Homo sapiens: one gene and its partners. The protein of the gene in region 4 interacts with the protein of the main gene of each other region in a biochemical or structural test. Each region holds a gene or a part of one and is shown on either strand. Other genes may lie near its edges.

Region 1 (8,089 bases), on a different chromosome or scaffold from region 4:
CTTTACAAGGCATCAAACATGCTATATCTTCTAAACTAAAGACTGGTAGTAATGCCATTTAGTTCTCATATTTTCAGTATCAACCTGACGTCAGGCTCTCTGATTATATACGTTGGCCCTCACTTTAGGGCCCTTGTTCTAGCTGGTAGTGACTGACACACTCATCAAAAGGGACCTTTTTAACCAAAACTGAGGATGTCTGAAACTGTAACTCCCTTCTTGAATGTTTCTTTTTTTTCTCAGTGTTGCCACTGTCTAGATGAATTTTCTTGGAAATTGTGCCCCATCTGTCATTTCTAGAGCATTTTATTTTGCACTTTATGATCCACTTGTCTTCAATTCCCCATAAAAATCCAAACCAAATGCACAAAAACACAATGGAGCAATACCTTGGGAGGTATGATTTGTACTAAGAAAGAGACCAGCCAGTCATTTTGCTGCCAACAATGCAGTTCTGCTACAATAGTGTCTTTGTTTCCAACTAGAACAGCCAGTTCTACAGCAAGTCCTTGCCACCCCAAAACTTCTTTGCATCCTTTGTTCTATTGCAGTCAATGAATACCTTGCATGACTAAGCCTATCCAGCCTGGCCTCTTTGCACCTCTCCAGCAGGCAATTAGAAAAGACATTCCCTATTTGGTACTCCTTAATATAAATCCTGTCAATCCAGTCCTTGTAGAATTTTGAATTTTCCTTTTAATTATTTTCTTTGTTTGACCTCATAATATTCTAATGATCCTTTACAGCATAGTGGTAATCCCTCATTCCATAAGGATGAAGCTTTTCACCCAGCCCCCTTCCCTACCTAGTACCTGTAACAGTTACTAAGAAATAATCCTAAATATATGGTCCTTACTAAAATCAGGAAAAAAAAATGCCTTTACCTGGGAAGCTGTTTGTGGTTCAATTCCAAGGAAAGATCCCTGATACCACATGTACACATGAAACAGCAGTACTTTTAACTGTGGCTTCATTTACTATCGGCAGATCTTGAAATTTCAACCCGCTTTATCCTAAAAGGAAGTTGAGTCCAAAACCATGGAAAACACCAAAACATTCCTGGCCCAAATCCACCACACATCTCACATACCTAATATGACATATTTGGTACAGTTCTTCAGAGCTGGAATATTTCTAGTTTTTCATCCTCCTGTCTTCATCACCAGCCCTTCTCTCCACTTCCAAACTCGGTCTCTTCCATAGGCTTTGACTTGAACTAGCCCTTGACAGCTACTCTGCTTTCTTACCCTGTACTATCACGAGACTGTGAATTTTTTGGCAATCCTCTAGAATAAACAAACGATACCAATATTTATCTGGAATAGCAACAGATTCTGTCCTTAACAAATGTAACAGTATTATTTGATTACAACAAAGCAAAACATCAATAAAACACCAGGCAGAGATAGCGCACGTCTAAAACCATTATAGCAGTGATGGTTGGCTCATTGATGAGGTCAGCATGAAAGGCCACTTTATAAGACCCTATATGCTGTTTATAAAACAAACTTTTATATTTTATTTTATTTTAGACAAAGTCTCGCTTTTTCTCTCCCAGACTGGAGTGCAGTGGCACAATCTCGGCTCACTGCAACCTCCGCCTCCCGGGTTCAGGCGATTCTCCTGCCTCAGCCTCCCAAGTAGCTGGGATTACAGGTGTCTGCCACCATGCCCGGCTAATTTTTGTATTTTTAGTAGAGACAGGGTTTCACCATATTGGCCAGGCTGGTCTTGAACTCCTGACTTCAGGTGATCCACCCACCTTGGCCTCCCAAAGTGCTGAGATTACAGATGTGAGCCACCGCGCCTGGCCTAAAATGAACTTTTAGTACTTTGGATAATAGCACTCAAAATAGAAGCATCTTTAAAAATCATCTTAAAAGTATATATCTGATAAGAACACTTTAACAATGCAATTTTAAGTTAATAATCTTATTTTTGTTTCCTAAACTAATATTAGTTAAGGACTTTTTTCAATAACTGCAGGAAGATAATTTAAATATATCTGTTTAATATTAGTAGTTTCCTAGCAAGAATTGATCTTAGCACTTTTGTTAAAAGGTGGGTCTGTTTTAATTAAATTATAAAATCCCAATGGAAATCATTCTGACTTTCAATACACTTTTTTGGTGTGTAAATCAAATAATTTACTTACTGCGAAAGAGGAAATAAGGTCACATTAAGATTCACTTTAAGTCGAAAAATAGTCCTTTTACTCCATGAATATAGTATGGCACTGCTTTTTCTATATAGTCATTCACTTATAGATATTAAATATCAAATATATGCCAACTGAATAATTTGACCAAATTAGGTCATTCATGTCAGTAAAATGTTCTTTCCTAAGTTGTTTTTTTTTTTTTTTTTCGAGATGGAGTCTCGCTCTGTCGCCAGGCTGGAGAGCAATGGCACGATCTCGGCTCACTGCAACCTCCATCTCATGGGTTCAAATGATTCTCTTGCCCCAGCCTCCTGAGTAGCTGGGACTGTAGGTGTGTGCAACCACATCCAGCTAATTTTTGTATTTTTAGTAGAGACAGGGTTTCACCCTGTTCACCAGGCTGGTCTCGAACTCCTGACCTCGTGATCCACCCACCTCTGCCTCCAAAAGTGCTGGGATTACAGGTGTGAGCCACTGTGGCCAGCCTTCTAAGATATTTTTTAAAATAATAGAGGGAAATAAGTAAAACTAAATTAAGACTATGCATACATTTGACTCTCATTGTAACATGATTTGCAAGAGAGTAAAATTTTGTATAATCTGTACACATCTCAAAGATTACCAAAAGGGATTTAGTTATTAAAATATAAAAACACTTTGACATGAGGTAGTCAAGACTACCAGACTACCTTATGCAATGGTCTCTGGTGCTTTCTTTGTCTCCCCGGCTCAATAATATTTATTTGTTTATTATTTATTTATCTATTTTTGAGATGCAATCTTGCTCTGTTGCCCAGGCCTGGAGTGCTGTGGCATGATCTTGGCTCACTGCAACCTCCTGAGATCTAGCAATTCTTGTGCCTCAGCCTGTCAAGTAGCTGGGACTACAGGTGCGCACTGCCATGCCCCGCTAATTTTTGTATTTTTAGTAAAGACGGGCTGGTCTTTACTCCATGTTGGCCAGGCTGGTCTCGAACTCCTGACATCAAGTGTTCCTCCCACCTCAGCCTCCCAAAGTGATGGGATTACAGTTGTTAGCCACTGCAACCGGCCCCCAGTAATATTTAAACTAGTAGACAAGTCTGCCCCTAACTGTTTCAGGGCCAACAGCAAGAACACAAATAGCAGTGAGCATAACAGACTACATATTTAACAGCTACAAACCAGGCAAAGAAACCCATAGGTAAAATAAGTTCTATCTTCCTTCCTTGATAAATATATATGCATAATGACCTGGAAGGCTAGGTCTGAATTTGGAATATTCACCTCCAGATTTCTAGTTAGGAACTGGGCAGTGTGTGAAGCGTTGCCTCTCCAGCCATTATCTTCCCCTCTTCTCTCCCACCTCTAAATTTATTCTGCAGCACAGGTAGCCTGTTGTTTACCTGCATGGACACTTCAGCTTGCATGTCCAAGCTCTGTTTACCTCTCCTGCATCAGTGTCCTTGGCCATCTTCACCTAGGATTTGGCACAGGGGTGACTCAGTTTACCCCCAGAAGGCAGGCCATAAAAGTAGTCTGAGGCTGTTTAGGCTAAGAATTCTGGAGATGATCTAGAGGGGGTGACAGACTTTACTTGAGCAAGCCCCATGGACTCCCTGCCCATGGTTGAGGTCAATGGCCTGAGGACAGCTAGAGCTGAACCTTCCAAGGTTCAAGGTAGGGACTCCTCTCACCTTTGAAAAGCAATCTATATGTCTATAATTATGATTCAGAATGCTGACTCAAACCACACAGATCGGAATTCTGGGACCATTATTTATTAGTTAAGAGATCTGGAAGAAGTTATACAATGCCTCTTGAATTAGTTTGCTTACCTATACAATGGGAATAACAGTATATAACTAACAGGGTTGTAAGCATTAAAGGATATATTATATTTTCAAATAATGTGTCCAGGAGGGTGCCTGGCCTACAGTAAATAATACACAAAACTTAATCGTTGTTATTTTTTAACTCCAGAACTCAGTATAGTGCCTGTCATAAAGCTGTATGTGCTTTAAGAAAGTCTGAATGAATAGTCATTAAAGGAGTTAGAATAGCTTGGATTTTTTATTAATTTTTTAAGTATTTAGTTGAAAATGACTATAAATTCCAGTTTTTGTAATTTTTGAAGTATTTAGTTGAAAATGACTACAAATTCCAGTTTTTGTAATCTAATTACAATTTTGTAAAATTGTAAAATCAATTTTAAAGTTGATACCAAGGGTAAAGAATTAGGATTACTTTTTATATTTTATTATCAACAATAGAAATCATTGTCACAGAAAGTTTGAAAACAAGACAGACTTTGAAAAATAAGATTAAAGAGTACTAAGTCTCAGCTTTTAATCTTTGCTAATGATTTGTCCAGAAGGTCAAGAGACTGCTTTCTGGTATGGTCTGGGAAAACAGAAACAAGTGTCCTTTATGGTGTAACCCACTTTTAAAAGAAAATTTTATTTCTCTAAGTTCAAATTCTAGTGAGGCTTAGAAATGATTAGGGAGAATTTGCTTAGCTGCCCAATTTTAGATTGCTCACTATTATCCTCAAGTTATCTATGGGGTCATTTACTCCAGATACTTTGTGAAGACCTACTGTGTACCAAGCATTGGACACACAAAAATACAGGCAGCTTCTTCCCTCAAGGAGGTCACAGGTGGGTGTGTCCATAGCAAAGCTGGGAGGAAGTTGTATGAGGAGCCTGAAGACAATGGGGAGCTAGGGGAAAGTTCTGAGTAGAAAGGAACATGTGGACAAAGGTTTGAAATGATGAAGACTGATTAGGAAGTTCATATTATGAAGCATAATTCAAGCTTTCTCTACGATGTTCAAATCCCATCTCTCCTACTTACTAGATAGGTGACATTGGGCAAGTTACTTATCTCCTCTGCTCCTGTTTATTTGTTTCAAAAACAGGGACCTCTCTCACAGTGTGATTATGAAGACTGGACAAGAAAATGGAGTTTGGTTTTGAATGCGTTAGGGTCTTTGCCTTTAGGCGTGTAGTGGAGACATGGTTTACACAATTTGCTGCACCTTCTGGAGGTCAGGTTTAGAGATAAATATTCTGGAGGTGTCAATGTGGAAATGGTATTTAAGACACAAGACTGGGCCGGGTGTGGTGGCTCACGCCTGTAAGCCCAGCACTTTGGGAGGCCGAGGCGAGCAGATCACGAGGTCAGGAGATCAAGACGATCCTGGCTAACACAGTGAAACGCCCTCTCTACTAAAAATACAAAAAATTAGCCGGGCGTGGTGGCGGGTGCCTGTAGTCTCAGCTACTCAGTAGGCTGAGGCAGGAGAATGGTGTGAACCCAGGAGGCGAAGCTTGCAGTGGGCCGAGATCGCACCACTGCACTCCAGCCTGGGCGACAGAGCAAGACTCCGTCTCAAAAAAAAAAAAAAAAAAAAAAAGAAAACCAAGACTGGATCAGAGAAGTCCTTAGGAGTGGGTCCTGAGCCACTACTACATTTAGAGGTTAAGAAATGAGGAAGAATCAACATCAGAGATGGAGAAGGAGCTTAAACCAAGAGAGTGTGGGTCCAAGAAGCCAACAAAACTGTTTCCAAGGAGGGCAAGGTCAACAGTGTCAAGTCACCAACAGATGATACATCAAGCAGGATGGAGATTAAGAATTAGCCATCAGATCTGGCAATGTGGAGGTTACCCTGATCTTAAGAGAGTGGACTGCAGAGGTGATAAAGAAAGCCTGCTCACAATGGATTCAAAGAGAAGGTGAGGAGAAGAATCGGAGAGAGGAGTTACGGACAACTCTTTCAAGGACTTATAGCAAAAGGAGAGAAAAAATAGGAGATAAAAAGGTTTTGCCACATATATGGATATTGCTTTAAATGATACAGTAGATAGGAGAAAAACTAATCATGCAAGGGCAGGCAGATCCTTGAAACTGAAACTTTACAAGGTATACCTGCTGTGATTCCATTGGAATAAAACAATTAACATTTGTCACGGGAAGCAGATTTACTCATGTTGTTTTTCTCTGTTCATATACATGCGTATCAAAAAGCTATTACATATCCATACTTTCAAAATAAAAATATTTTTAATGGAACTATAATAGAACTATTGAAAAGTAAATGGTTGAAACTGTGTCTTTCCCATTCCTCGTGTCCTTCTCTTTTGCAATTGCTTCCCTTAAAAATTGTGAACATTCTTGTTGCCCTAAGTTTCAGTTTTTAAAAAAATTCATGCTTTAAGATTAGTTACAGTGTGTTCCTCCTCCAGTAGTATTTTTATTTACTGAAATATTTTAAAATAAAATGATATGAAAAATTTCTTTCAAAATATTTAGTTGGGAGAAGGGGGTGAATTGGGTACCAGCAGGAGCACAGATGAAAGAAGTTGGCTTTGAGTTGATGGTTAATGAAGCTGGGTGATGAGTATATAGTGGTCCCTTATACCATTCTCTCTAATTCTGTATGCATTTGAAAATTTCCATTATACCATGTTAAAAACTTTAAAAAATCATAGGGTTAATACCATGGTTAACCAAAAAGAATCCATTAAGTAGTGAGATTTCAGATAATTTGGTAACAAGAGAAGAAGTTATTTTGGGGCACAGGAATTTTCCAAAGCATATCAGCTACTTTGCTGTCAGTTTAGAGGGCAAACATGTATGATTTTTAATTGATCAGAAAGTGTCTCCATTGCTTCAAGATAGAATTAATTTGGGAGCTTATTATGCAAATAATTTAGAAGGCTGAATTTTTTGTTAATGATACCTTGGTTCTTTTAAATATCCGATCACTTTAGGTAAGCATAAATAATTCTGGGAACACTTATGCTATGCAACGCTTTGAGGGGAAGTAATGATATGGTCACAAAATAATGTTAATCTAGTTGATTGTTGTTGAAAATAATAAATAATTGATACTTGAATAAACAGAAGGTGAAATTTCATTGCAATACACAGAAGGTGAAATTTGATTGCAATAATAGTTACCGCTTTTTTAAAAGAAACTGTGATATCTGAAATTTGTTACACTTATATTGCTATATAAAAATTTAGGTAATGAAAGTTCTTAATCTTTTAAAATAAGTAAATGTGGAAACAATGTTGCTACATTAACTCTTCAAATATTAACCACTAGATATACTTTATGTTTTTCTGGTTATTTATTGACCATTTTACAGTGCTATTATTTCTCTAGCTGTGGGTAATCTTCACCAGAGACAGTTAAAAAACAAACTGCTATAATTTTTGCTACATCAGAAATCTTTGGATTTGATTAATAACATCCCCCACTGCTCACTATATATTTGTTATTAAAAGTCCACTATATGTTCGAGACCTATAAATTCTGCTTTAAAAATTAAACCCAAAGTTATGCTGGTCTTATGCAGCTTCTGGTCTCTTTTGTATGGCTTTATTGCCCTCAACATTCTCCTGGTGTAAACTACTGAGCAAGGAAACAAGATTTCCATTGTAACTGATACCTAAATTTCTATTCTGCTTTAAGCATCTAATTTGCACTGTAAAGACATATAATTTGAGACTTGTAGCTATATCACAAAAGTACAGCAGTTTATGCTGATCTCTAATTTTCTGAGTTATACTGGCTATAATTTACATTTTTTGCATGTTTTTAACTGCCATGCAAATCAGTATACATCAGAAACCTTTGTATATTGACAGAGACTGGGAAAAGGATGCCTTGTTCTGATTTCAGATAAGCATTCCCTTTTCAGGTCTGCAGGTGCAAGTAGGCCCATTCATAATATTTCCTTCAAATCAGTTTTAGACACTGGGTAGAAATGCAATGCTTTTTCACAAGAGCCTGACTAATGTTTATAAGCACAGTTAATGGTTTTTAAAAATGTACTTTAAATAGTAAATTTTAGAGGCAAGTAGGACTTTTTCCTTTGCCTGTACGTTGGGAACAAAATATACTGTGTTAACACAAATTTTGGTCATTTTACTAGT
Region 2 (8,280 bases), on a different chromosome or scaffold from region 4:
GGGCTGACCCCTCCCCAGGCAGACCCTGGCCCCCCATGCCAAAGAGAGAGGTGGGTATCCAGGATGGATCTGGGCTGGGCTCAGCAGGCAGGGTCTGGCAGGGGAGGGTACACATAGGGAAGCCCAGGGGGGCCTCCCAGGGATGGGAAGGGGGACGGGAATGGGGAATGGATGGTCACAAGCAGGAGGCCTGACACAGCCCCCACACGCCTACCGAGCTGTCTGTGCGTGTGTGTTGGGGGGACCCCTGCCCAGCTCCTGCCAGGCGCAGGTCCCGCTTTTGCCCCTCCCCTCCAGCCATCCTGGCAACTTCCAGGCCCTGTGACACGGCTGAGTCTGAGTGGTCCCTACACCATGAAGGCCCAGCACCAGGAAGCCCACCTTGGTATTCTGTCCCCCACTTTCCACTGCCCTTCCTCAAGCAGCAGTGTGAACAGTGTGGACACCTGCTGGGCCTGACGGTGGAGCAAGGGGGAAAGGCAGGGCTGCACTGGGAAGACCCTGGGGGCACCACAGGAAACAGGCCGGCCCCAGGCCCCTCTCCAGACATTGCTGGTTTGTTCCACTCCACTGCTCTGGGGCCTCAATGACTTTCAGTTTGTTTCGGAAATAAGAAAGTGCCTGTTGTTCAACCTGGCTCTGGCCAGGCCTCTGGCCTAAGAGTGATGGTGTGGGGGCTTGCCGGCCTCACGCCCACCCTCTCTCCACCCAAGAGCCACGCCCACAAAATGTTCAGAGCCAGGAGGACTAGCTCAAAGCTACTCTCAGTCTTGGACTGGAAGAGCCCCACCTCTTTCCACCGGAGGCCCTGAATATCAGAGTGGGGAAGGGCAGGGGGCAGGGATGGGAATGCAGGGAAGACAGTCCCCCAGAATCTAAACTTGGGGTCAACTTGGGGGTTCTAGGCTCCTTTCACCTCTTCGCTACTCTCAGCACAGGAATTTTGAGTACATATTTTCCATGTACATAAAGGGTTAGCTTGAGAAAAAGCAAGACCCCTCCTTCTCATGCAAGAAGGAAGTTGTAACCCGGAGGCCCAGGGTGCCCTCCGTCCAGCATTGTGGGGTGGGGGAGATGGGGGAGGGTGTCAGGCAGGGTGAGGGTCTGGAAGATACCCCCAGCCCCCAAGCTCAAGGACTGACTGCGGCACCCAACATTAGATTACAAAGGTTTATTTAGAAAATAGTTTGGTTGTTTTGGCTGTTGTTTTTGGCAAACATTTAAATACTTTCAGTAATCAAAGATTGTCGGTGCTTTCTCCTTGCCCCCTGGCAGCCACCCCCCGACTAGGTCCTGGAGAAGTCAGCCCTTGGTCAGACGGGGATGGGGAGTGGTAGTGTCTTTGGGGGGCTCCTTGCTTGCCCATTTAGGGGGCTACCTCTGCCACTGCTCTCTAAAACCCTGACCTCACAGCCACACCTCGGCAGGGCTCCCAGAGCTGGATCCAGGCAGGGAGCCCCAGAAGCAGCCCCTTGCTGAGGGGGGAAGGCAAAGGGGTCTCCCCCTCTCTCCTCCCCACTCCCTGGAGCCCGGCTATCTCTCTGCCAAGCTCCTGCCCTGCCGCACCCTCCCCTGCGCCCTGGAGGCCAATCCATCCCCGGGTCTCTGGGAAAGCTCCCCCGTCCGGGCCGCCCCTTCTGCCCAGCCCCGAGCGCGGAGCTGTCCAGGATTCCCAGACGGGTGCGAGTCACTGCCTGAAGCCCCTTCTCCTCCGTCGGAAGAGGATGTGCTTAAAGGATCGCCGGAAATCCTGGTTGAAGACCGTGTAGATGACCGGGTTGAGCGAGCTGTTGCAGTAGCCGATCCAGAAGAAGAACTTGAAGAGCGGGCCGGGCACCTGGCAGGCCTCGCGGCAGATGCCGTACAGGCTGTAGCTGAAGAAGAAGGGGAACCAGCAGAGCACGAACACGCCCATGACCACAGCCAGCACAAAGGTGAAGCGCTTCTCGCGCGCCTGGGCCACCTTGCGGCGGCACACGCTGCTGCGCGCCCGGCGCCGGCGCGACAGGAAGAACTCGACGGAGCGCGAGCTGGCGCGCGACAGGCGGCCACCGGGCCCCGGGGACCTGGAGGCGGTCAGCGCCCCCGACTCAGCCGCCCCCGGCCCCGCCCCCTGCCCGTCCGCACCGCCCGCGCCCCCCTCCGCGCCCGCTCGCCGCCGCCCGCCCCGCCGCAACGCGCCCCGGCGCCGCCGCCTCTCGGCCGCTGCGCTGCTCTCGTCCGGCTCCACGTCGGCGGGCGGGGGCGCGCAGTGCCCGTTCTCGCCTGCGCCTGCCGCCGCGCCCAGCCCGTTTTCGGTAGTCGGGGACGCACCGTCGGGGCCCACGGGGGCGCGCTTCTCGCTGAGCGTGCGCGTGCGCAGCTTGGCCACTCGGTAGATGCGCGCGTAGACCAGGCCCATGATGAGGCAGGGCGCGAAGAAGGAGCCGATGCAGGAGGACAGGATGTACCAGGTCTCGTCGTTGAGGCCGCACTGCGGGTAGGCGGCGCCGTCGGGCTGGCGGTAGAGCGAGACCAGCGGCGGGAAGGAGATGACGGCCGAGATGAGCCACACGGCCACGATGGTGGCCTTGACGCGGCGTGGTGTGCGCTTCAGGTTGTACTCGACGGCCTGCGTCACCGACCAGTAGCGGTCCAGGCTGATGGCACACAGATGCACGATCGACGAGGTGCAAAACAGCACATCGAGCGCCAGGTACACGCCGCACCACACCTGCCCGAAGTACCAGTAGGCCATGAGCTCGTTGGCCAACGAGAAGGGCATGACCAGCGTGGCCACCAGGATGTCGGCCGAGGCCAGCGACACCAGGAAGAGGTTCTGTGGCGCGCGCAGCGCCCGGCTGGTCAGCACGGCGATCACCACCAGCACGTTGCCCACCACGGTGAAGACGATGAGGAAGCCCACCACGGCAGCCAGCCCTGCCACCGCGCCCGCCGAGTACTGGCCGCGCGGCGGCCCCCAGGAAGCCCCCGAGGCATTGGCAACCCCGCCGCTGCCCCTCTCGCCCGCGCCGCTCGCATTGGGGCCCGCCGCTGCCGCCACCGCCAGCGCCGCCGCCAGCGCCGGGGACGCCATGGTCCTCCCGCGAGCTACGCCGTCCCTCCTGGAGCCGGGGCGCAGCCGCGGCAGCTCGGGCGCCCCCCAGCCGGGGTCGGCGCCCGCATCGCCGCCTGCTGCTCGGGCGCGCCCGCCGGGGACCGCGGCGCCCAGCAGCCGGCCCTCGGCCGTGGTGGCTCCGCGGGCGGCGCGCCGGAGAGCGTGGCTGCCGGGCTCCCCGCAGCTGCCGAGCGTGTAAGTGCAGAGCAGGAGGCGCCCGGAGCGAGCGGCGACGCGGCTGCGGGGGGAGGGGGGCAGGTCCCGGGGTCCTCGCGCGGCCCCGCCCTCGGCCCGGCTCACGGGGAGCGCCCCGGCGTCGAGCCCACGGCGACGCGGCGCCCGAGCGGGCGTGCCTGAGCGGCCCCGCGGTCCCGGAGCCCAGCCGGGGCGCAGGCGACAGGCGGCGGCGGCCCGGGCGCTCCGCCTCCCATCCGGCCGGCTAGGGCTCGGCGCGCCGGGGCGCCGGCCGCCGCTCCTCCGGGCCCCCGCGCCCGCGCGCTCCCTCCGTCTCCAACTTTACTTTCCCGGGCGGGGCGCCGGCGCCGCCGCGAGTCCTCCGGCTGCTCCCGGGCGCGGGCGCCCCCCGCGGTCCACGCTTGGCCGTGCGGCCGCCGCCTCGCTCGCCGGAGCTGCGCCGCCGCCGCCGCCGCCGCCCTGCGCTGGGCGCGAGTGCGGCCGCCTGCGATCGGCTTCCAACTTGGGTCGAGTTGCGCAGCGGGGCGGGCGCGCGGGGCGGGGCGGGCCGCGGGCCCTGGGGAGCTGGCCGGGAACCGGAGCCCGCGGCCGCCTGGTCGAACCTGCCCGCGCGGCGCCGGGGAGGAGTCCGGGGCGGCGGCGCGGGGCGCGCGCTCGGCGAGGGCGCCCCCTCCAGGGCCGCCTGCAGCCTGCGGGACGGGGCCGAGCGGCGGCCGGCCTGGGTGGTGAGTTCCAGAAGCTGCTCTTTCTAAGACTGGAGCCTCCTTCGCCTCCCCCGGCGCAGGCATGGGCGCAGGCGGGGGCGCGCACACGCGCGCGCGCAGCACGGGCGGCTCGGGGTCCATGGCCTGATGGCAGAGCAACCTCTCGCAGCCTGGGGGAGGACGCGACGCTACCTGCGTGCGCACAGGTCCTGCCGAGCTCAGGGTCCGGACCAGATCCTGGATCGGCGCTCCCCGTCAGAGCCACCTCCGCACCCACCCCGGCCTCAGTTCCCTCGGCCCACTTCCCAGCGCTGCTGGAGCATGAATCATAACTAACGGCGGTGTCTGTGGAAGCCCTGGGCAAGCTCCCAAGCTCTGCACCCATGTTAGCAGTGATTGAAGTTTAATCCTTAGGCTCTCAGGCCCTGCTTTTAAAGGATGGAGAGGTGTTCAAAGTCACCACCTCTGACAAACACCCAGAACGGAGCTGCCTGGATGATGGAGCTTTTTGCAAGGGTGGGCTCAGGGGAGAGCGGCCGTTGAGGTAGCCCCCGTGCACCCTCGCCCCCGTCCGCGCACCTCCATTCTGCAGATGTGCACTGCCACGTGCACTGCCACTCTGTGGCCCATGTTGGGTGCTGGCTTCTGCCTCCAGGCAGCCTGGGGTCTGTGGGAGAGGGACTTCCAGGGACGAGGTGATCCAGGAGGAGAGCTGGAGTTCTCAGGCCTGACGTTTCTCTGCTAGGACCGAAGGGACGACCCTTCTCCCAAACGTCCAGAAACGAACCCCAGCTGGCTGGCCTCTCCCTGCATGGGCCCGCAGGAGAGAGGGAGGGAAGGTCTGTCCATCCTGTGGCTAGAACCGGCGGGGAAGGGGCGCTTCTGAGTGCCCGGGAGGTCATCATGAAGAGCGGCTGGAGTGACTGCCCTACCCCCGGGATGCCTATCCATGCCCGTGGCCTGGGGCAGCTTCTCTCTGAGCTCCTGAAGGGCGCCAGCTTTAGCCTCAGAGCCTGTCGTGTTCTCTGCTGCTCAGCCCTACTGGGGAGCATGTCTGTCTCCGCAGAGACACTGCCAGGAGCTACGGCTTCGTTCTTCACCATGTTTGTCACCAGCAGGGCCTGCATTGGGGGTGTGGAGGCCGAGCCAGGGCCCGGCAGAAAGCAAATATTTCAGATGATGGGCCTGCCAAGCAGGGGCGCACGTTGGAGCCAAAGCCTTCTGTGCCAGTCCTGTGCTAGTCTAGGGCACATATGCCCTTCGGGGAGGCAACAGGCCATGGCTGTCCTGTGGGAGGTGTGTGACCTGGGGATGGTGGAGGGTCACCATCCTTACTAAAGGCCCTCCTGGTTCTGGTTGCCTAAAAGGTGCCACCTGTCCAGGGCACCTGGAGGTGCATTTTTCAGGGAAGCCCACACACACCTGCTTCCTTCATGGTCGGCCCGCTGGAGCCCTTGTCTCTATTGAGCCCTCTGCGATGGCAGAGAGTGAGGGGGGCCTGGCCTCAGTTGAGGTGCTCACCATCTGTGGGTGGATGGGGCCACCCACTGAGGTGAATGCGCTGACAACCATCAGTGCCCTGGGGCTCCTCCCCCAGCCTGGGAGCGGGGTTGTCAAGGAAGCCTTCCTGGAGGAGGTGACCAAACTGTGCTTAGAGAGTGAGGAGGTGTTATGAGGAAGGGGGAGGCCTCTGTAGGCTGTCCTTCTTCCAGTGGGAGTGGGCTTTGTACTGGGGGCGTGGGGAGACAGGAGGACTAGGAAAGAGCAGTGGCAGGGGCCAGATGCAGGCTTTGGAGAAGGTCTCTCTCCCTCGGCATCAGCGTGCCTCCCACCCCCATCCTGAAGGGCTCTCTTTTTGAGAAGTGCTTTGGGGGATGCGCAGGGGCATGGGGATCTATCTAGGATCCTGGCTCCTATGTTCCCAAGAGATGGCAGCCCAGGCACGGGAATTTGGAGGGAAAAGGACACGGAGCACCTGGGGCCCTGAGCCAGATGAGCCTCCCACTGCCCAGGAGGGCTGAAGGCAGGGGCCACTCACAGGCCAGGCTGAGGGCATCTGGAGTGCCTGGCCAGTGAGCGGCCCAGGCCCTTGGGGATGGCAGCCAACAGGCTGACATGCTGCTGGCAACACCTCCTGGCATGACCAGGGAGGGGTCAGAAGGGTCCACTCCAGGGCCTGGATGGAGCCAAGGGCAAAAAGCTGGGGCCTGGAGTCATTAGGAGGAGCGAAGCCCTGGGCCATGCATAGGGGTTGCATTGCACGCAGGCCTGCCTGTGGTGGGAGGGCCCGGGACCGCAGCTGTTTGCAAGGAAGCTGGAGAGGACTCTTCCCCCAGACCTTGAAATTAGGCTTGAGGAACTGCTCCGGATTGTCCGTAACAAGCAGAACAGCACGTACCCAGCAAGACTTCCTGTCCTGACGAGGCACGACGCGAGCTGGCACGACCAGGAGGGGCGAGGAAGGAGGGTGCTGGGGGAGTCAGGCTGCACTGGCGGGGGTTGTGGGGGCTGTCTGTGTGTACGTGTGCAGGGGAGTACATGGCAGAAGTGGGCATATTTCAGAGGGGAAACCTACAGGTGTTTCCTAGAACTGAGAACCTAGAAGTGGCACGTCCTGGAGCTGCAGAGGCGAACCTGCCTGTATCTCACCCATGATGCGTGGGGCCTAGGAGGACAGGGTTGGTCCAGCAGGGCCATACAGCCATGGGACATTGGGCCCTGGCTGCTGTGCCGGAGAGAGCTGGGTGCCTGCCTGGGATGCCGCGCTCTAGGCTTCGTGAGCAGCCTCAGCTCGGGTGGAGGGGAGTTTGGCTCCTTGAGCCCCCTCCCTGCACATGCAGGCATGCATGCACATACGCAGATGTACAGTGTCCACACACATATATGTATCCACACACATCCTTGTGCACACATAGATCCATGCACACACATGAATATACATATCATGAATACACGTGTGTTCATGCAAGCATGAACACCCATACATACACATATCCACACATGCATGCAAGCATGCAACCTATTCATGCACACTTGCATGCCTTCACACACACATGCATGCACACATCCACACACACACTGTCTACATATACCATGTGGATTTACAGTGCATCCATGCCTACAGAATATACACACATGTATGCACACATACATGTTCCCACACATGCACACATGCCTGCGTGTGCATACACATGCCCGTGTACTCTTCACATGCAGGTGCATATATACATATGCACTATCATACACACGTGCTTTTTGCACACGTATGTCTACACATGCATATGTATCACACTGGCATATGTAGAAATGATGCACCCATGCTGTGCACACACCTGTGCATACTGCGGGCACGCACAGCCTTCCCTGTGCAGATAACACGAATCCATGCACATTGCACACACGTGTGTATGCCTGTGCTGCACACATCTGTCCCTATGCATGACACCAGTCATGCATGTGCACACATGGCTTCGCATATATGGATGTGTACACACATATGCGGCACCTGTGGCCTTGCCCACCCTCCTAGGCTGAGGAGAAGATGTATTTCTGGGTTGCTGCTGCAGCCAGCTCTTCCGGGGCTGCGGCTGGGTTCTGCCTCGCCTGCCTGGTCTGCACAGCTCCACCTGGCTCCTGCGGTCAGCCCTCCTCTCCACGCTGTGAGCTGTGAGGACATTTCTCATTAACTCTTGTGGACCCTGGGCCTGACCATGTGCTGTCCGCAGGCCTGGATGCCCTCTGCCTCATCTTTCCTGGGGCTCGCTTCCTTCAAGACTTGTCCCATGATGTTCCTCCTTCAGGAAGCCTCCCGTGACCTCCCGGGCTGGATCTGGGCCACTTTTGCCGGCCTCCTGCATGCCCCATGGGGCATGGCCATCATCAGTAACCATACATCTCAGCTGTGTCCCATCCCCACTGCCTGGTCCAGGGCTGGGCTCTCAGCTCACAGAAAGAGCTGAATGAAGGCCTGGTGGCAGGATGGGTGCCGTGAAGGGCAGATGGGCTTGTGGGCCTGGCTCTAGCCTCCTTAGCCGCACTGATGCTTGCTGGGTGCTGAGTGCAGGGGGTGCCTTCACCTGGTGGCTGCTTGTGCCAGGCCCCAGTGCCCCTGGCCAACAGGCCCTTTTCTCAGTTCCATGGAGTTTGGGGTCATCAGATGTGGCTTTAGGCTCCTGCTCATTCCCTTACTTATTGTCTGGCAGTGGGGGAGCCTTCTGGCTTCCAGGGCCTCAGTTTCCCCTGTCTGTAAAATGGGAGCATTGGACCAGAGCATTCCGAGGCCCA
Region 3 (7,925 bases), on a different chromosome or scaffold from region 4:
CTTTATTGATAAAATAGCTCAGAGTTTAAAAAAAAAAAAAACACCACCTGCATGTCGCAATAAGAGGTCACAGGCAAGAACACTGGGGGTCCCATGGGGCGCACACAAGACCGGCCAGCAGAGGGTCACAGTCAGTCCCTCTCCTGGCCCAGCTCCCCACCACATCCCAGGGCGATACTCTGGCCTCAACAACCCACTGAGGACCAAGCTGGGAAGCCTCCCACACCCCAGGAAGGACTCTTTTTGGTCCCCTCCATTCTCTCTACACCCAGAAAACTCCCTCGGTGCCCTTCCAAATCTAGCAGGTCCATCTGGCCCATTCCCCCGACACCTGCCAAGCTAAGATGCCTACTGGCCCAATGTTGAAGCCAGGCCCTCTCCAAGGGAAGGCCGATAAACCTCCTTTCCACACTTCCAACTGTTCTGGGTGCCAGGTTTTGGGGTGGGACTGAGAACCAGGAAGCAGGGGTCCTCAATGCACAGCCCCATCAGCATTGCGGGGAGCAGCGTGGCTGGGTCCGAGGCAGTCCACAAGCACCCACCTGGGGGGATCAGTTGTGGTTCACAAGGACTCATTTGGGGCTTGGAGACCTGGCCGGGCACTCCAGTGGGAGGCTCCCCTAGGGGCGCACCAGGCTCTGATGCCAGTACCCCACCTGGGGGCGCTGCCACCTGTCACAGGCTCTCATCTTAGACTGTTGCCGAGGTGTGGATATTTTGAGCTGTCTTGGGGAGACAATTTGCCTCCTTGATGACAAAAGACTTATCCCCCACTGGGGAGACCCAAGCCACTAAAAACCCTCTTGGTGTTGCCGGTGAAATGTCGAAACGTTGTCATGTAGCGTAATAACTCAGACCTTTGCAGCCAGAAGAACACATTCTCAAAGAGATCCTTTAACTTGAAATAGTGATTCTGTCTGCCACTCCCGGCTTCCAGTTCGGGGTAGGAATTCACACACCCCAGGGACAGAACAAAAGTCTACAGGAAGACAGGTGGTGGTAAACACAGAGGAAAGGGATTTTTATATCACCATATAATCACATTTTTGGTTCTCTAGTGTGTTCCCCCACAGAGCTCAAAGCTTTCTGCAAAGCCTTTCATCTCCCTGCAGCAAGTAGGCAGTGAGCTATTGTCGCCCCGATTTTTGCAGGGGGTGAATGCCAGTGATCGGGGATCTCCCGTCGAGGCAGAGACCAGGCCTCCAAGACCGCCCCAGCGAGGCATCCACGTGGCCACCCACCTACCGGAGGGGTGCTGGGTAAGGAAGCCGATCCATTGTTCTGGCTTTCAAAGGAACCACAGATCCGAAAACAGGCAAAGGGGGAAAGGAGGGCCCAGAGACGATGCCACCCCATAAGCCCCCATCCCAGCGCCTGCCAGGGACCGCGAGTGCCTAGCGTGGGTGATCAGTCTTCGTTTCTTCCTCCCCCTCAGCAGCAGGCCCCACTGGGAAAAGTGGAAGGCTGGCTCCGTGCTCTTTGTGGGTGGGGGGGAGATGAAAAAGAAACGAAAACACCACAAGCAAGTGACCTGCCAGGAACACAAGGTCCTCAAGAAAGGGAAGCCCAGACATTGGTCTGGAGAGCATGGGGCTCTGGGAAGAAAGTGCTCTCTCTTCTCCTGGTCTTGGCTATGTTCCAGAGGATTTGAACCACCTCCATCGGCCTGTGCTCAGGGAGAGGGTGGAGAAGGGGTCCCCCACAGCTAAGCCGGCAAGGGGAAGCTTCACTGGGACCCTTGCTAGCAGCCCCCCTGCCCACCCCTCCCAAGGGGTTCCTAAGATGAGGCCTACAGGATCTGGGCAGGGAGCAGAAAGCCCAGGGGAGGCAGCCACACACAGCAGGGCAAGAAGCAGGGTGACCCCGGCGCCACCGCACCAACCCCACAGGGGCAGCGCAGGCGGGCTCACCAGGCCGTCTGGGTCCACGGGCGGCACAGGATCCTCCGGAAGGCACGGCGGAAGTCCTGGTTGAAGATGGTGTAGATAACAGGGTTCAGTGAGCTGTTGCAGTAGCCGATCCAGAAGAAGAACTGGAAGAGGCCATGGGGCACCTTGCAGTGCTTCGGGCAGATGGCTCCCAGGCTGTAGCTGAAGAAGAAGGGGAACCAGCAGAGCACAAAAACGCCAATGACCACAGCCAGCACGAAGGTGAAGCGCTTCTCCCGGGTCAGCTGCGCCCGTCGACGCCACCACTGCCCACCTATAGCACCCACGCCCCTGCCCAGGAGCACCTGGCCACGTAGGGTGGCCAGCACCCGGGAGCCCTGTGGCTGCTGCAGCGGGGGGCTGCAAGCTGAGGCCGGAGACACTGGCACTGCCTGGGGTTCACACTCTTCCTCCTCCTCCTCCTCCTCTTCCTCCTCTTCAGCTTCATCCTCTGGAGATGCCCCACAAACACCCTCCTTCTGGCCCTGGCCTGAGTTGGGAAGGGCAGCCCAACTGGGTGGCAAGGCCCGGGTCCCAGTATCTTCAGGGGTCTCCCCCTCCTCCTTCTCCCCAGTGGACTTCGAGTGTCCGTTGACCTCTCTGGCAGAAGCCACAGAGGCCAGGGCTGGCAGTTTGGCTGAGGCCAAAGCCCCACCATGGTCGGGTCGGGGCTGCTTGGACTCACCCTGCCCAGGCCCCCCCTTGGCCCTGGGACCTCTGCGGTTGCTGCGTTTGGCGATCAGGTAGATGCGCAGGTAGACAAGGATCATGATGAGGCAAGGAGCAAAGAAAGATCCGATGCTGGAGGCCAGGATGTACCAGGCCTCCTGGTTGAGCTTGCACTGGGGGCGCCCGCGCGGCTGGGGGCCCTGGTCGCCCTTGTAGATGAGGGGCGGCAGCGAGATGACGGCGGCGATGAGCCACACAGTGAGGATGATGCACTTGATGCGGCGCGGGGTGCGCTTGGAGTTGTACTCCAGCGCGCGGCTCACGGCCCAGTAGCGGTCCAGGCTGATGGCGCACAGGTGCACGATGGACGAGGTGCAGAAGAGCACGTCGAGCGCCAGGTACACCTCGCACCACGTGCGCCGGAAGTACCAGTAGCCCAGCAGCTCGTTGGCCAGCGAGAAAGGGATGATGAGCGTGGCCACCAGGATGTCGGCGGCGGCCAGCGACACCAGGAACAGGTTCTGAGGGGCGCGCAGCGAGCGGCTGGTCAACACAGCCAGGATGACCAGAGCGTTGCCGAAGATGGTAAAGAGAATGAGGAAGGTGATGGCCGCCGCTATGGCCGCTGTGGCCTGCACGGAGTAGGGGTCCTGGTGGTCCATGACGGGGCGGGAGGTGGGCAGAGGGAGCGCTGCCCGCCCAGTGCGCACCGTGGACGACAGCGCTGCCCGGCTCGGCTAGACAAGAGCGTCGCCCCTCGGGCGGCGCCGAGGGCGCTGGAGCCCCATGGCCTGGACGAGCGGGGCCTAGGAGGTCGGGAACACCCAGGACCAGCAGCCGCCCTCCTACATCCTCCTCCACCGGTGCCCGGGGTCCCTGCCGTCCGCCCCAGAGAAGTTTCCCAAGTTGTCCCGCCGCCGTCCCCGTCCCGCCCGGGACCGGAGAAAGTCGCGCCCTCCCGCCACGCGGATGCCGTACGCTCTGGGGGCGCGGGCCGGGCTGGGCCGGTTCTTAAAGGAGGCGCGGAGGACCTTGCGCCCGCTCAGCTCGCAGGCTTTCGCCCCAGCCGCGCCTGCAGGGGAGTGGGGAGCGGGGAGAGCGGCTGGAGGAAGGCGGAGACTGGAGGCGGGCGCGGGAGCGGGCGGGAGGCGGGGCGGTGGGCGGACCGAGGTGGGCTGAAGGTGCGCTTCGCGGGAGGCGTGAGCCCGGGACTTCCCGCGCCCGGACCCCGCCCAGCGCCTCTACCTGCCTTCCTCCCGGCGGCCGCGCCTCGGGAGAGCGGAGGGGCCCGGCGGCCGGGGTCTCCGGCCCCCAGGCAGGACGCGCGCAGCTGTGGAGGGGTCGGTGGGTGCCGGGAGCCGGGACGCGGAGCTAGCGCGCGGGCCGGCACCGGGACGGGACACTTCTCCCGGGGGAACCGGGCTGGGCCCGGCGCCGGTGCGCCCTGCTCTGCCTTCCGCCGCTCGGGAGCCCGCAGGGAGGGCAGGGCGGGCGTGGGGCTGGGGCGCCGGGTCGCAATACACCACAACCCCGCCCGGCTCGGCCGTGGAGACGCCCTGCGGAGAGGTGGGGGAGCGGGGAGCGGGGAGCCGGTCCCGACCCTTTCCCAGGCGCTGCCCCTCGCGGACCAGCTCCGTCGGGCCAGCGCCGCGCGAGGAGGGCGCGTCCCGGCCTGCGAGCGCCCCCTGCTGCCGCCCGCGGGCCCAGCCCGTCAGCGGCAGCCCGGGTCCCGGAGCCAGCGCTCGCAGCCTGGGTCTTAGGACTTCGGCTTCTTGTGTCTCCGCAGCTGCCTCAGTTTCCTCCATTAAGGGCAAAGGAGGTAACAGGGAAACTGGCTTGGACTCGAATCACAGCATCAACTGCGATTCAGCCAAGGGTTTGTACGGGGCACAGGGCGAGCTGCCGCCCCTTGACTAATGCGAAGGGGAGGTCCCTTCCTTGCCGTGGGGGAGTAAAGGGTGGGGACTTTGTCACACAGCTCCGAGAAAAAGCAGGTCTCAGGGGCAGCCGTGAAGAGAGGAGCGTCCCTCCGCTTCTGTAGTGACCCCGGGGGAAGGGGTTGACCCTCCCTCCCTGCTGCGGTCCTGCCCCACATACACACTGAAGCCCTTCTGGGGGTGACAGTGGAAAGAGGGTTGGGGTAAAAAGAAACTTCAGACTAAGGCCCCCCACTCGCCTTCAAAGCGCTATGAGCAACTGTTCTCCCTCAGGGCCCCAACTCACTCTCCCTGCCACACCGCCACCAGCACCAGCCTGGGCAGCCCTGAGGGCATGTTTCCCCGGTTCTGGAGCCCCTAATGTCATAAGCCCCGCCTCGAGCCAGGCCTCTTATTCACAGCCCACGACTCTGCAAGGCATCCTCTGTATAAATAAGCACCAATCCACCTCTGACAGTGGGGCTCCCCCAGGCCCCGTCCAACCTGCTGGACCTCCTCTCCTCCCTGCTCCCTCCATGGGAGCAGAGCACGTGGCCTCTCAGTGCCCACGGACAATGTCTAGCGCCTCCCCAGGCTCAGGTGGGAGGTGCCCCGTCTCAGGTACCCAGACCAGCACCCCCAGCCACGGGGGTGTGTTGGGAGTAGGTGCCTCCTTGATCCCCCCATCCCTGTCATTCTGCCAGACTCCCCAGCTTCTGGTGAGGTGCAAGTGCCCACAGCCCATGGGGTGGATGCTGCCAGGGCTGGGTTCGGACAGGGCAATCAGCCTCCTTCCCACCCCCAACCCTAGGCTTCAGCTCAAAACCGACCACTCTGCTAGACACAGTTTCCTGGATGTGTCTTTCCCACCCTCTGGGCTGGGCAGGGCCTGGGCGCCGCCTGGGCATACATAACCAGTGATGGAGAGATGCCAGTAGCTCTTTCCCTGAGGAAGGACAGAGGGTGGCCATGAGAGCCTGGGAGCAGCTACTTAGGCAGGTGCCTGCCTATCCAGGGGCTCCCAAGGCCTTCACAGTCTGGGCCTGCTAGAGGCCCACATGGGCATCGGGAGGAACCGCCTTTCCACTGTCTCCAACCACACTTGGGCTGGGGGCCAGTGAGCAGCTCCCCAGACTCTGCAGCCAGCATCAGCCTTTGTCTTCTGACCCATCTTCCTTCAAGGGATGCTGCAGGAGCTGAGACTGGGTTGCCCGTGTGCCCTCCCCACCCTGCAAGTCCCCACTGAGGACGCTTACCTGGGCCTTCCTAGAAGTGACAACTTTGGGTCTACTGAGTGCCAAGCCTTGCTAGGCATCTTTCATTGGGCCAGCTAGGCACTAGGCCAGGTGGGGACAGCCAGGGACAGAGTCTACAGCTGGCAGACCTGGGAGATGTGTGCCCTCCGGGCAGCAGGAGCTGCCTTGGCATCCATACCGCTGCCCCAGGCTGTCACCGTCTACTGCAGCTGTCTCCTCCTGGCTCCACCCCAGGATGGACAAGTGCAGCGTGGGTGCGCCAGCTCTCCACGGCCACGCAGGCCATAACATAACTCAGCTCCTGCTCCTCTCGGCGGCTCACCATCTCCCCCCGCACACACACACCTTCAGGCCTTGCCTGCTCCAACCAGCCCCATGAGGCTGCCAGGTGCAGGAATTGGAGCCTACTAGCATAGCAAGGCTTCCTTCAGCTCTTCCCAAACTAGACCTGACCTTCCACTGTCATCCTGTTCCACAGGAACGGGCATAGTTCAGTCCCAGACCAGCAACAGCCAGCAGCAGGAGCAGCCGGAGCTTTCCCAGACACATAGCAGGGGAGTGGGCAGCAGGGCACAACCTGGATCCCAGCCCTCCATCCCTGCCCCGCCAGGCCAGTGTTGGATTCTGAATGTGCCCTGGGTCTCCACTCTCTAGACCTTCCCTGGGGCTGTTTGCTCTGATAGAGATGCCCTATCACCCTTCCTTCTGTGTTTGGTGGGCTCCTACTCACATTTCAAGGCCCACTCACCAGTCACCAGGCTCTCAGGCAGAGGGAGGACCTCCATTCTCCAGGTTCCTCGACGCCAGGCGGCACCACTTTCACACTCAGCACACTGTACTAAGATGCTCTCTGATGGGTTTGTTGCATCACCTCTGCCCATCAGAGTGGACATCCCTTCTCTGTCCCCAGTACCTGGCACAAGGTCATTGGCCGTGAGGGACAGTGGCAGCAGGCAACAGTGCACTCATACACATGAGCATTCTAAGACAGATAGCCCAAATGAGGGTGCCCTGGAGGGATGTCCTTGGGAAGAGGGGCCATGGGGAAAGGACCTAGCCATGGAAGCGATCCACCTTTTCCAAAGAAGGGCAAGACTGTTGTCCCATTGCTGGCTGTGAGACCTTAGTTGGAAGCCATGGAGACACTTCTCCAGGCCTGAGAGGTGAGATGGTGCCACCAGATCTCCTGGGCTGGGGCTCCAGCAGCTCACAACGGTGCCTTCCCTCCCCTAAGGGCCCACTGGGACAGACCCCCATCAGGCCACACACCCCACCTTTCTCCAGATGTACCCCGCCCCCCACCAGCCTTTCAGTCCCTGGGACTCTTAACCCCAGACCATCCTGTATGCCCCAACCTCCCCACTTCCCAGATCCTTGGGTCGTGTCCTCTATAATAGAAGTCAGTCGTCCTCTCTGCATAAAGATCTTGACAAAACCCCAGCTCTGGTCAAACCTAAATCATCCACCCACTGCCTGCCTTTGACCAAGCAGCTGCTCTTTCCGGAGCAAAACACTCTCTGCATCGACTGGCCTCACTCTAAATTCATGACCACAAATCTCCAAACTTCCCTAGTATGCTCACTTTCCCACTTGTTAAAATCGGCATCCCTCCCTCCCTCTCCAACCTCCCAGCCACTCCTCCGCCCCACCATGCTGTGACTCTGCCTGGTACTTAGGGGGAAACGGAAGTCCAGGCAGGAACTCACCCCCGCCGCCCACCTGCATCTGGCCTCAAACTCTCTCTGCTGATTGAAGGGCAAGTCCTCAACCTATGCCCTAGAGCCCAACCCCTCTCATCTCACCCCAGGGTTCCCCCGCTTCAGTTATCCCCCTCTTATGGTCACTGCCCCTACTCTACAAAGCCAGCCCCACCCCTTAGAACTGCCCCCCAAGCCCCATCACCTTTCTGCTGCCTCCCATAGCCACCTTCCCCCCGTGTCTGTATCCAGGCACTGTGGCTGACCCCTCACATTCTCTCCTTAACCCCCGGCAGGTCATCTTCAGACCCTCCACCGAGGGTCTTCTGTGGGTCATGCCCTACTCCACATCACCAAGCACCAGGCTTATTCTGCCCTCTTTCTCAGCAGCACTTGGCACAGCAGCCCTTCCCCTGGAACACTCACAGGGTCTGTGACCGCCTTGAAAGCCACTCCTCT
Region 4 (7,000 bases):
TGGAACTTCCAGGCACCAGCCCCTCCTCCCGGTGGCCACCCACATCCTGTTTCTCTCCACCACCCTTTCCTGGGGGTAGTACCCCTCTTGCAGGGGGGCAGGGAGTGATCCCTGAATGTTAAGCCAAAGGTAGAGTGGACACAGGGAGCTTCTGATCCAGTCCCCTTGGTTACAGGCCTGGGGCGGAGTCTTCCCAGGATGACATAGGGCTGGTCGGGGTGGGGGGCATGAGGTCCCAATGAGGGGACCCCAATATGGTTAGCATTCACCCTGGACGTCCTGGTTCTTCAGTCAGTGAGTCAGGGACAGGTAGGGGGAAGGAGAAGAAGCCCTAGAGGACAGTTTGGAGGGCTGGTGGACAGTGGGCCAGGAAGGCTGAGTACTGGTGGCCAGCTGTTGCCAGGGAGCTGGGATGAGAAGGCAGGTGTGAGGCGAGGGACTCCAGGCACAGCAACTCCTGCAGCCAAGGAGTCAGCAGAACCTCTGTGAGCTGGGCCACCAGAACCTTAACTGGCTGTTAAGGCAGGTGAACGGAGTGCCTGGACGAGGACCTCCTGCCCGCTCCCACGCCCCACCCCTCTGGGCTCTCACCGCACTCGGCCCTTGGTGTTCCGGAGCACAGACGCCGCGAAGCTCTGGGTCACTCCCACCAGACTTGTTCCATCCACCTCCACCAGGAGATCATTCACCTGGATCCTAGCGGAGTGACATTGGTTAAGGGGTCACAGGGGAACCGAGGAGCGAGGGTAGAGGTAGCCTCCTCCCATCAGAAACTCCAGGCTCCCCAGCCTGAGTACATAGTGAGAACTCATCTCTACAAACAATAAAAAGAAAAATTAGCTGGGCATGGTGGCACGTGCCTGTAGTCCCAGTTACTTGGGAGGATGAAGTGGGAGGATCACTTGAGCCAGGGAGGTCAAGGCTGCAGTGAGCTGTGTTTGCGCCACTGCACTCCAGCCTGGGCAACAGAGTAAGACCCTGCCTCAAAAAAAAAAAAAAACAAAAAAAAACAAGAAAAGAAAACAACAACAAAAAACCTCACAGATACTTTGTCCTCACAGGGACCTGGTACTTTGTCTACCTGCGTAACATTCACAAGGCCAGAGGATTAAGTGTCAGCCAGGCCCACCTGTGTGGGCAGTGAGAGCCAGGCAAGCAAAGCAGACACAGGCGTCCAGGACCAGGAGACGCGGCAGGCACACTTCCTGTGACAATCACACTCTTGTCCCCTCCTTCATCATACTTGACTGAGCGGTGTGACATTCTCAGAGTTCATCTCTGCCATGCACACTGGCCAGGAGCCCCACAGCACACAAGTGACATGCCACCCTCTTACGTGTACATTTCTGCACAGAACTGAGTGCACAGATGTCCTCCCAAGTCCCCAAGACCGAATGGCACTCTCTCGAGTTCACACACTGTCCCACACACACCTGATACAGGTGCACCTGCCGACACACTCCAGTTGTGTCCCCTGAAGCCCGTGTTCTCCATACAAGGGGAGGTTCAGTCTGGCCTGCTGAGGGAGATGGAGGGTGGGGGGCCTCTCAGACACCTCCCTCCTCCACTCCACCTCCCTGGGAGCTCCAGGCCTTCTCTCAGGACTCCCACACGGAAATGGAGGAAATGGCCTATTGTCAACAGCTCACCCCAACACATGCCACTCCCAGGTGGGCATGAGTGAGTGGCCACGGCCACCATGCACACTCACTCCTTAGACAACCCACAGGCAACAATGGGAAAGGCTCTGGAAGTTCACATTGGGAGGGGAAGGGGTAAATGAAAGGGTATCCTGTTCCCGGCCCCTCTCCATGCCACCTGGGCCACAACAGGTAGAAGCCCCTTGACAGGGCAGCCCCATCTCTAGAAACAAGATCCCAAAGTCACCCAGATCCCAAAGGACACCTGCTCACCTCTGTCACATGGAGGGGGTCTGGGTTTGGAGGTACCACCACAAGAGATCCCCAATGTCACCTCTAACTTACAGCCACCCTGGGGGATGCCCTACAGCCCTTCCTACTGCCACTCCCCACACCCCTGGAATACACAGCTAACACAGGGGTCCCTGGCTGGCACACAGCTCCAGGATGCCCTCCCTGAACCTTCTGTCCCACAGAACTCACCCCTTGCAACCACAGATGCTCAATACAGGCACACACACTCACATGCGCAAAGACAGCCTGTCTCCAGAGCCACTGCCATCAATGGGTCTAGTCACAGCCTCCTGGCCCCTGCTCTCTATGCCCCAGCCACACCTGCCTGCTCATGGCGCCACTGCCTGGAACCTCTGCACTCACTCCCTCAGCACAGCTAACTCCTGCTCCAGCCTTAGCTCTCAGCTCCAGCACTGCTTCCTCCAGGAAGCCTTCCCTAATGCCCAGAGAGATTAAACCCTCCTGTTGTATGCCTTCACAGCAGTCTGCATTTCCCTCCATTTCACTACCTTTTGTGTGTCCATTTATTCAATGTCTACCTCACACCACACTGCACACTTCTCAAGTGCGCCAGGCCCTCACCATTGACTTCCCAGGGCCCAGCACCGGCCCAACACTGTCAGAGACTCAATGTCCAGCGAAAAAAAAGCTCAAATATACTCCATGCCTGTCTTCTCCCTACCAGGGCCCAAACTGTACTCCAGACCGGGATGCACAACACACGCCTATAGCCCCCATGGTCACCAGCCCCTCCTGGAGAACACACGCTCCTTCAGGGCATAGGGGCTGACAGTGCTCACTGTTGTATTTCTGGGGCCTGGAACAGCACCTGGCATGGCAGTGCTCCCCGAACATCTCAGCTGCACACACAGCACGGAAATCTCCCAGGGAAGGCCCGCCCCACCCCCTGCTCAGTGGCCCACCCCACCAAGGATGGCCGGTCGGAGAGGGAAAAAGGGTCAGGCGAGACTGGGGAGGATTGGTACCTGCCATCCCGATGGGCCGCACCACCCTCCGTCACGGTCTTGACGAAGATACCCAGCTTCTCCAGGCCCATGTCTGCCCCGGCGCCCATGCCGATGATGCTGATGCCCAGGCCCTCGGAGTCTGTGGAACAGAGAGTGGTGAGATGGCAGGGCTTGTAGGGGACAGACGAGAGACTCTCCACCCCGAATTCCAGGGCACAGCCCCCCCATCAGGAAGCAGTCCCCATTAGGGGATGTCCCACAACTGAAGAAGGGATATAGTTCTGTCCACCGTCTTTGCCAAGTCTACTAGGATGGCTCCTGAGCCGCTCCCTGCCCTTTGTCCCTTCCAAAGAACCAATGGGCAGAAGAGCGTGCCAAGGGTGGCACAGGCAGGTAAGACTGTTGCATATGCAGACCAGGGCGTGTGGCCAGGATGGGGGTAGCCAGGATGGGGGTAGCCAGGATGGGACTCAGCCCTAAGCCTTTGGTCTTCTCCCTCTCAGCCAGTCTCATCTGTACTCATAGCTTCAAGGACCAAAGACCTCCAGATTTTCTCTCCCCTGAGGTCCATTCCCCTATCCACACCTGCCCCTGCCTGACTCATGGCCCTCTGATGTCCCAACTAATGACCTTCCCCCACAAACACTCCCTCATGGGGGATGGTACCACCACCTGCCACCTGCCAGACCTGGGAGGCACCTGGATTCCTCCCTCCCACTCACAGCCTCCACCTGAGCCAAATGACCCCCAGATGCTATGGATTCTACCCCTGGAGATCTTTCCAGTCCACCCACACCCGCTCTGCCATCTTCCTGTCCACGCCACAGTGGCCTTTCTCCATCCACTTGTGACCCCCTCCCTACATCACAGCCTGGTGTGGTCTTTCTAGACCTTTCCTGTGCTTCGAAATGGCTCCCAATCCATCTTAGCAACAAGACCACGTGGTCTGCAAGGCCTCATTTGCATGCTCTTCTTGCCCTCCCTATGCAAATGCAGCCAAGCCCCTTTCCTGACTACTCCCCTAATTCCTCCTCACCAGAGTGCAACTCAAGCTTCACTTCCCTGGAGAATGCCCCCAAGCACAGTCTGGTTAGGTCACCTGTTAAACGCTTTTACAGTGGCCCCTCCTTACCTTCCCCAGCCCCTATTCCAGCGCCTAAGGGTGAGATTAGATGTGACTGTGCCTTCCATGTCTGCCTCCCCCATCCATCTCCCCAGGAGCCCACCACTGTGTCCCCAACACAGAGCCCAGGACCTAGCACACAGTACCCTACAGAGACCTGTTAACTGAATGTGCAAATGTGGTTCCATGACCGGGGTGGTGGGGGTGTGGCTTGGCCTGGGTTGGAGGCCCTGTTTGCTCTGGGTGCTGACAAGGGAGGAGCGGGGAAGGTCACCAAGGGCCTGAGTCAGAGGGAGAGGCCCAGCAAGTCTGTGGGAGCCCCTGAGGGCACAGGGCAGGAGCTGGTGCCAGAGATGAGACCCGGGTCAACCCCAGCTGTGCGCAAGTGACGTGGCCTCCTGGCCTCTCACCCTTCTCCAGCTCCACAGGGAACAGCTCCAACCTCTCCACACGCTTCTCCAGCTCGTACTCAGCAGAGGCTGCCATGGGATCCACATCCTCGTTGCGACGATCGTAATCCTCGTTGGAGTAAGTGCTGAACACCTGGGGAGGGAGGCAGCTGGTCAGAGAGGCCGGCAGGAGGACAAGTGCAGAACTGGCATGAGGAGGCCGAGGAGGCAGGCTGAGTTACCCACCCCATGCCTCCCCATGATAGCCCTGAGATGAGGCCTCACCCAGTCCCCTGAGACCCCAGCTCTGAGCAAAACAAAGGCCCTTATAGTTCTGGAGCCCAGGGTCAAGACAGAAAGGGACCCAGCCTTGGCAGACCCGCACTGCTATTCTCTCTGTAGCTCCAACCAGCGTGAGCATGGTCTGCCATAGGCACAGAAGGGGAATCCTGGAGAAACGTCCAACTCAGGAACCCAGACACCCAGATAGAGGGAAAGTGAGAGATAGGACCCAGAGAGCCAGACAGGCGAGAGGGGACACAAAGACAGACACAGAGAGGAAGGAACAGGCTGAGCAGAAGAGGGGAAGAGGAGGAGGGGAGAGAGGATGGAGAAGATGCTGGAGAATGCCAGATGGGGAGAGAGGGGGGAGCGGGTGTGAGACAGAAGAGGAGGAGGGGAGCAGGAGGGGTGGAAGGGGAGAGGTACCCAGGACTGGCTCTGACTTGCCGCTCAAGTGGATGTTGGAGCAGGGGAGGGAAGCAGGAAAGACCATCTCTATCCCCGTGGAGAAGAGGCAGGCCCTCCATCCCCAGGAGCCCCTCGGGTGGCAGAAGCAGGGGAAAAAGCTGGGCCTGGCCTTCCCTGCACACCCAGGCCGCTCTCCCTCCACAACTGCAGCTCTCTAAGTTACGCCCCCTGTCCATGTGCTAGGGGGCCCAGGAGACTGAGGAGGGGACAGCCTCTGACACTGCCCACAGCGAACCCAGGCGCCATGGGGCTCCGAGGCCACCCCTGCCTTGGCATCTCCTGTACCCCTCTGTTGTCTCTCTCCAATGTCTCTCAGCAAAAAGAGGAATTCCTCAGCTCTGACTCCCTCAGAAGGACAGAGAAGGTGGGGCTGGGCTCTGTGGGAATGTCTAATTCTGGGCCCAGGCAGGGGTGCCCCCAGTGGGAGGTTAATGAGCACCATTTGGGGTACCATGACATGCTCAAGCTTCATCGCCTGCAGTGACAGGTTGGCACCACTTGGAGCCAGGCGGGGGCGGGGAGGGATGGGGAACAGCTCTATCAGTTGGCTGAGTCTGAGCCCCGAGGAGTCAGACTAGGACCCCATCTCCCCCAAGGGCCCTTGTCAGGGCCCGTCTCCTCCAGGAGCAGACCTTGTGGGCACCCTGGTGGGCAGCAGCACTCTCGTGTCCCAGCCTTTGTCTGGGTTTGCTCCGTGTCGTCCCCACCCCCTACCAGAGAGGCTCACTGCCACAGTGGGAGAGGGAGGGGGTGCTCATAGGACTAGAAGGCTTAGGTGGGAGGGACCCCTCTGGTCACTTAGCTCAATGCCCTCAATTTCACAGCATCAGAGAAACTCTGGCTCCAGCCCTTAAAGCTCATCTGTCCATTGCACCCCTCGAACAAACAGGCTGCCTACCTTGCACATAGTCCAGGGCACCAGGCCCACTGCCCAAGGTCACATGGGTTAAACTGTGGCCAGGCAGAATGAGACTGCACCCAGCTGGGACAGGTGGGTGGGTCACCGGTGACTTGGTTTCCACTGCACACATGCCCCAGGCTCTGGGACAGGGCTGATGTGAGCCTGGACTCAGCAGTGGGATTTGGCCCACTTTGCACTGGAGTCCCCTGACTCTCACCCTCTGCTCTAGGAGACACGGTCCCTTCATCATTGAGTCTCTACAGTCTCCTGAGTCAACGAAACCCCTCCCTGACACACATGGACACACACGCCCGCTGTGACCTCCAAAACACACCTCACAGCCTGTCCTGGGCTGCACCCTGCCCTCTTCTCTCAGCCTATCAAATCCTGTTCCCTTTCTGGTCCTGCCGCCTGCAGGAATCCCAGGCCTGGGCTCAGAGGCCCCAGACCACCTCCTACCCCTCCTCGGGCTGCCCACCATGATATGCCGGTCTAGCAGAGGGCCCTAGGGGAGGTCCCACCTCCCTGAGGCCAAGCTGGAATTGGGTTCTCTGCCCTCAGCAGAGGCCTCCACCTCCAGAAGGGCAACAATTGGGTCATCCATGGGGACCGGGACCCTGGACTTGGCATCAAGGCAGGGGCAGGAAGAAGAAAAAGTGGGGCCCCTGTGCCAGGGTGGGGAGGAGGAAATCCCCAGTGAGGCTGAAAGCCAGCCACACTGGGCCCGCCACACACGCTGGCTCTCACACAGGGCGGGCCAGCTCCAAAGTCACCAGGGAGCCGGGAAGCACTGCTCCAAATCATGTGCTATTTTTTACTGAAAAATCAGGGTAAGGCGTCAAATATAGACAGTCAGAGGCCCAGACCAAACTCCAACTCTGAGGGAATCGGACTTCTCGCAAAATTAGTGGGGGTGGGGTGGGGGGATCCAAACT

Evidence for each region.
Region 1: the proteins of PPP1R9B (region 4) and ITGB8 form a complex in vitro, tested with the Homo sapiens proteins (one study listed by BioGRID).
Region 2: the proteins of PPP1R9B (region 4) and ADRA2C form a complex in vitro, tested with the Homo sapiens proteins (one study listed by BioGRID).
Region 3: the proteins of PPP1R9B (region 4) and ADRA2B form a complex in vitro, tested with the Homo sapiens proteins (one study listed by BioGRID).

Annotation. Positions count from the first base shown.
Region 1 is NC_000007.14:20,333,470-20,341,558, reverse strand, and holds part of ITGB8 (integrin beta-8 precursor), read right to left. Parts: intron 1,287-8,089; exon of another isoform or gene 1,091-1,286; intron 1-1,090. UniProt on the Homo sapiens protein: Integrin alpha-V:beta-8 (ITGAV:ITGB8) is a receptor for fibronectin. It recognizes the sequence R-G-D in its ligands.
Region 2 is NC_000004.12:3,761,403-3,769,682, reverse strand, and holds ADRA2C (alpha-2C adrenergic receptor), read right to left. Parts: upstream 3,299-8,280; 5' UTR 3,077-3,298; coding exon 1,688-3,076; 3' UTR 1,157-1,687; downstream 1-1,156.
Region 3 is NC_000002.12:96,112,891-96,120,815, forward strand, and holds the start of ADRA2B (alpha-2B adrenergic receptor), read right to left. Parts: upstream 3,682-7,925; 5' UTR 3,260-3,681; coding exon 1,907-3,259; 3' UTR 1-1,906. UniProt on the Homo sapiens protein: Alpha-2 adrenergic receptors mediate the catecholamine-induced inhibition of adenylate cyclase through the action of G proteins.
Region 4 is NC_000017.11:50,140,678-50,147,677, forward strand, and holds part of PPP1R9B (neurabin-2), read right to left. Parts: intron 4,569-7,000; coding exon 4,436-4,568; intron 3,042-4,435; coding exon 2,921-3,041; intron 697-2,920; coding exon 592-696; intron 1-591. UniProt on the Homo sapiens protein: Seems to act as a scaffold protein in multiple signaling pathways. Modulates excitatory synaptic transmission and dendritic spine morphology. Binds to actin filaments (F-actin) and shows cross-linking activity. Binds along the sides of the F-actin.